Linked DNA regions of Homo sapiens: region 1 is linked to region 2. Evidence: fine-mapped expression QTL. Tissue or cell type: fibroblasts. Region 2 holds a variant in brackets; the other region holds the start of a gene. All regions are shown on one strand. Distances are between the middles of the regions. Region 1 holds the start of PUM3 (pumilio RNA binding family member 3). Region 2 has its middle 26 kb from the start of PUM3.

What was found. PIP is the estimated chance that this variant, and not a neighbour inherited with it, causes the effect.
Region 1: it holds the start of PUM3, and the variant in region 2 is fine-mapped to the expression of PUM3 in fibroblasts (GTEx, PIP above 0.99).

The regions. Positions count from the first base shown.
Region 1 is chr9:2,842,705-2,845,616 of GRCh38, reverse strand. PUM3 (pumilio RNA binding family member 3) reads left to right here and starts at 1,522. Exons shown (of 18, transcript NM_014878.5): 1 at 1,522-1,572. RefSeq lists enhancers at 1,191-1,430, 1,254-1,548, 1,932-2,493.
Region 2 is chr9:2,868,947-2,871,858 of GRCh38, reverse strand. No RefSeq gene overlaps it. Among named protein-coding and RNA genes, the nearest start is that of PUM3, 26 kb to the right of the region's middle. The variant A/G (reference allele first, on the strand shown) is at 1,410.

The DNA.
Region 1 (2,912 bases), 26 kb after region 2:
CTGCAATTCCTGTTCCATATTCTCTTCTCTTAGCATTTACTGAATTATTGAAAGCAGTACGGAGGCAGCCACGTTGAGTTTAGAGTCAGGCTCACTGGACCAAAGCTACTATGTTTTGCCTTTCTCTGTAAAATGAGAAAAGACCTATTTAAAACGTTCTTATGAGATTTAAATGAGCTGAAATGTAAACTAGTAACAGTTAAGGTAGACGACAAGAACTTATCAAGTATCTATGTGCTGCATAGTGAGATAAGTGCCTGGAAAGTAATGATGGCCCCTGTCATCAAGAAGCATACAGTCTACTAAATTACCAGTTTCAACTCTAACTCCTTAGTGGCCAGAAAACGGAGTAAGTTGGAAGACAGTAAAATCTGAAGTCTGGCACCAGGGATCAAGTGCCAGTTCCTCAACTTTACAGATGCAGTGGGTTGAATAGTCTCCAAAAGATATGTCTATGTCCTAACTCCCAGGACATGTGAAAGTGACCTTATTTGGGAAAAGGGCCTTTGCAGATGTGATTAAGGACCTCCAGATGAGATGATCTTGGATTATCCCCGTGGACTCTAAATTCAATGTTCAGTGTCCTAAAAACACACAGAGAAGTGGCACAGGCACAGGAGAAGGCCATTAGAAGACAGGCCGAGATTGGAGTCATGCAACAAGAGGCCACGGACCGCCTGGAACCGTTAGAAGCTGAAGAAGCAAAGCATTCTCCCCTAGAGCCTTCAAAAGGTGCAGGGCTCTGCCAACAGCTTGATTTTGGAATTCTTGCCTCTAGAACAGTTAAAGAATAAAATTCTGTTGCTTGACACGAGCAAGTTTGTGGTGTCAGTTTCTTCATCTGGAAAATGGGGCATATATCCTAACCACAATCTTATTTCCTGAAGTATAAAATGGAATAACAGCAGTTTCCAGGCACGAGCAGACACTAAAAATGGCAAACATTTATTGAGAGCGTTCCATGCTAAGCGCTTTGCACGTATCACTTAATTATTTCTATTTTATTGATCAGGAAGCCAAAGCTCATAAAAACTGTAATTTTCCCAGAGCCACACAGCTAGCAAGTGAAAAAAACGGGATTACAATTCAAATCGACTCACAAGATACCCCTTTTATCCTCCACGCTGGACTGCTGAGGAAGTATGCAAATTAACACACTTTAGAAACTTTAGCTACTTCAATATTTGTTCAGGCTACGGGATGCAGGCCTCTTATTAACCGCGCCAGCCAGGTCTGTCCTTCAGCAGCCTGTTCTGCCTCGCAAGAGCTCTCCCTCTCTTTCCAGCACGGAAGCCACAGGGTTAATGACGTCATTTCCCGTGGCCGTTGTCGCGTCCTCCGCCCGACGGATTCTTGCAAGGGCCAAAATCCTCGCGCCTCAAGAGGAGGCATAACAGCAGCGGACCAATAGAAATTCCGAATTTTTGTATTCTCTGGGAAGCTCCACCTCTTAGTCCCTGATCCGCCGCGGAAGATGAAAAAAAGCGGCCCGGGGGCGGAGCAAGGCAAGGAAGCGGAAGCGGAGAGGCGGTCGGGATCCGCTGCGCGAGCTGTCTCGGTCCCACGTGTGCGGTGAGTGTGGCAGGCTCAGCGGTCGCTCTTGGGAGGGGTTCGCACCCTGCCGGGCGCTGGAAGTCGGGAAGGTCTCTCGGGGCTGTTGTCCACTGGGCAGTCTCCTCTGGCCTCTTTCTGGGCTAGGAGTTTGGGACTGACTGGAGCCTGGCAAGAAGGGCGGGACTGGCCGGGCGCGGTGGCTCACGCCTGTAATCCCAGCACTTTGGGAGGCCGAGGCGGGCGGATCACAAGGTCAGGAGATCGAGACCATCCTGGCTAACACGGTGAAACCCCGTCTCTACTAAAACTACAAAAAATTAGCCGGGCATGGTGGCGGGCGCCTGTGGTCCCAGCTACTTGGGAGGCTGAGGCAGGAGAATGGCGTGAACCCGGGAGGCGGAGCTTGCAGTGAGCCAAGATCGTGCCACTACACTCCAGCCTGGGAGACAGAGCAAGACTCCGTCTCAAAAAAAAAAAAAAAAAAAAAAAGAAGGGCGGGACTCCGACCTCTCTCCCACCACGTTGCCCTGCGTGCCGGGTTAGAGTGGACTAGCTTCACTCCGGAATCCCAGCCCGTGCTCGGCCTGATCAGCCTGTCTGTGCTACTTCACAAACCCCAACTCCAGTGCTAGGCGGTTTGCCTGAATGTACGCAGATTCTAAGTGCTGGGAGGAAACGAACTGGATGCTGAGTTGGCAGATAGTGGAGTCTGAAGAAGTGATCTTTAAACGGAGATTTGGAAGCTCAGGGAGTACTTCAAGCAGAGGCGATAATGGGCTAAGTTCCTGAGATGGGAGCTAGGAAGGAGTATAGTTAGAGTACAAGATAAAGTTAGCCGGATAGAGTGGAACTAGGTTCTGTAGGGCCTTGAAGGTCATGATGGGGAATTTTTTTTTCTGTACAATAGGAAAACATTTCCGTTCCTATTACCATGTGTAGAAAACATTGAAGACTTGTAAGCAAGTGAGAATCATGAATAGGCCCTGGTTCTCTTTAGAAAATGTATTACATTTGGAAGCTCAAGAGATTGTATTGGTAATAGTTTGCATTAGGGTGGTGACGTAAGGGACATTTAAGAGAACTAACTTATGGTTCAGCGTGGCAGAGTAGAGAGGAAAATGTCAAGGGTAACTCAGATTTCTTACTTGAGCAGTAAAGTAGATGATGTGCCATTGGCTGAGATGGAGGACGATAGGGCAGGGAAAAATAGTATATTGTTGTTTGTGGGGCAAACAACAATAACATAAAGAACAACATAGAGAATTATGTTTTGGACATATTAAGGGTAAGGTTCCTGTTAGACACATAATTAGAGGTATCAGATAAGCAGTTATACACAAGTTTGGACCCCAAGGAGA
Region 2 (2,912 bases):
GTGTGGTAGAGCTTGGCTTGGACACCATGTCTCTCTGATATTGAGGTTTAGGGTAGTTAAATCAACGTGGTCTTTCCCCTTTTGCCAACTAGACGCCATGAGGCACAGAAAAAGCTCACAATAGCGTTCACCGGATTGAATTAATTTGTGATAATACCTACTTGGAAATTGGTAAAGTGGGTTCAAGAGCATATAGGTGAAACAGGTAAGATTGTCTCTAGACCCAAGCTTCTCCTCCACTGAAGTGACTGATTTCCTTATCTCAGCATTAGCTCCCATAAAGCAGCCCCCATCCCAGCTTGCTCCACCAGCCTCAGTCAGTTCTGACTAGAACGCTTATGTGACTCCTTCTACGGCCCAGTTTCCCTCCAGCCCTCATACCAAGCCCTCCATCCATCCAGGATTTCTATTGCCCTGACAGTTTGGTCAGTACTTTCAGCTCCCATTATTCTAGATTCCCTCAGAGGGCAACGGATTCCTGCTGGTTATATTTTGGATGTAATGGGCTTGGGCTCCCCACTAACAAGCTCTGTAACCTTGAGTAAGTTACCTACTTCCTTTGAGCCTTGAGTTTATTGTCTTTAAAATAATGGGCCAGGCCTGTAATCCCAGCACTTTGGGAGGCTGAGGTGGGAGGATCACTTGAGGCCAGGAGTTTAAGAGGCCAGCCTGAGCAACATAGTGAAACCCCATCTCTACAAAAAATTTTAAAACAAAAATATTAGCCAGGCATACTGTTGTGTGCCTTGTAGTCCCAGCTACTCAGGAGGCTGAGGTGAGAGGAAGTTACAGGAGATCAAAGCTGCAGTGAGCTATGATCATGCCATGGCACTTCAGCCTGGGTGACAGAGTGAGACGCTGTCTCTATTTAAAACATAAACAAAATAAAATAGTAATGAGAACTATTACTTGTTGGCATGCTGTGACTTTAACTGAAAATGTAAGTTAAATGTGTAGTAGAGTGCTTGCCCCACTGCCTATCTACTCTATGAGTCTGTAGATGGAAATTGAAAACTTTGTGATTGCTCTTTCAACTTGGAGAAGATGAATAATGAGAGGAAATAGAGACAGCAAAGAAAGAGAGAAGTTACAGGAGTAAGAAAGCAGATAAAATGCAGTATCGTGGAAGCCACAGAGAGAGTACGACCCTTAGTTCTTGTTTCCAATTGGATGGTCAAGAATTTCTGTCTTGCATTTGGCAAAGAGATAGAAGGGATTTTCAAGGCTTATTTCTATAGAGACATGGGGATAGAGACAGATGGCAGAGAAATAAAGACAGCAAGGTCTCAGGAAAGGAAGGCAGTTATTGATGACTATGGGTAAATTTTGGCAGGAAAAGAAAGTAGACGAGAGGGCAGCAATCCCAGAGCAATGGGTTTATGACAAGTAGATAATGGATAAATGCTCAC[A/G]GAGTCAATGGCTGAGGGAGTAACTGAGTGAGTGAGCAAAGATGCTTGGAGTTTCATGAAATGGTTTTGATAACATTGGTGATGTTGTTGGGTCTGTGGCATTTCTAAGCCTTTTTAGTATTAGTAGTGGGAGAAACATTGGAAGAACTATACAACATTCTTGGCTCACACAAAAGCACATCCAAGGGCCAAGAACATAAAGTAAAAATCCTTTCACCTGCTACCATCTGTTGCTCTCTAAACTGCCAAACTTTTCCTCAGTGCCCTCCAATAGTGGAGGCTATTTCCTCAGACCCCAAATAAGGTGTTAAAGATGACCCAAGAAACCTAGTTTTTGATTGGAAGCTGATCATCAAAGATTTGGAGATGTATGATGGACAAGTCTGAGTATATAAATCCATTCAGAAGCATCTCCTGAGATTCTTACACTCAGTTGAAGTTGACTAAAAGCTGGACAAAAACCCATTTGTCTATCTTTTTCCCTTAGCCCATTCCCTGGATCCAGACCTCCACTCCCTCAGTGCTGTAGGGTAGGCAGAAAGAGTATAAGTTCTCCAGAGATGGGATGGTGAGTATCAGGCTGGCCATTTAGTGTAGGTCAAGGCTTCTGGCATTTTAATATGCAGGCAAATCGTTAGGGGATCTTGGCCAAATGCAGTCTCTTGCTAACATAATGTGGGATGGGGCCTGCATTCTCTACTTTTAGCCATCCCCAGCTGATGCAGCTACTGTGGCTGCCAGGCATGAGTGTGATGGGCCATGCTTGAGTGGCAAGGCTATAGCATATCTAACTAACACTGATTTGCCCACACCTGCCCTTGTGACATTTGGTGGGTAACTGAGACACTTTTGTATCAGTTCAGCTTTAGGACTGATTTCCTCCCTCTCCCACTCACCCACCCCAACCATCAACCCTGCCCAGGAAAATGCAATGAAAAAAATAATAATAATAGTAGCATCTGATTGGAATCCTGAAGTCACAGCTAAAAGGTATTTTTTCCCCAGTTTTCTAGGGAACAACTAATGGTTGTTTTTCTTCTTTTTTGGATCCCAGAAGCCTTGTTTTTCTGGCCTTCATGGCTTGGCATGGATCCACTTTTGTTGATTTGGTGTTTCTTCTGTGGATAAACTTTCTGGCTTTGAAAAAGCCTCCTTCTTTTATGAGGCACTTTTAACCTGCAGGATCTCCATTTAGCTTAATTGGCATATTTATGTATTGAGATGGGTGCCTAGAGGGCTTGGGCCACAGCATCTTTTGTATAAATTGAAAAAAATGAAATGAGCTGTTCTCACAGTTGTGTGCCCTTCAGTCATGGAGTGCGCTAAAAGGCTCATCATTTACAGGCTGCGAAAGCTCAGGAAGATCAATAGGCATAATGCAACCCAGAGCTGTTCGGCAAAGCAAAACTCAGGGTTTTCAAAGCCCAGTGACTTCGGGAGCTTGGCCATTACTAATTCCCTTTTCAATCTTTCCTGGACCCTTCATTTCTTGTCCATGTTAAG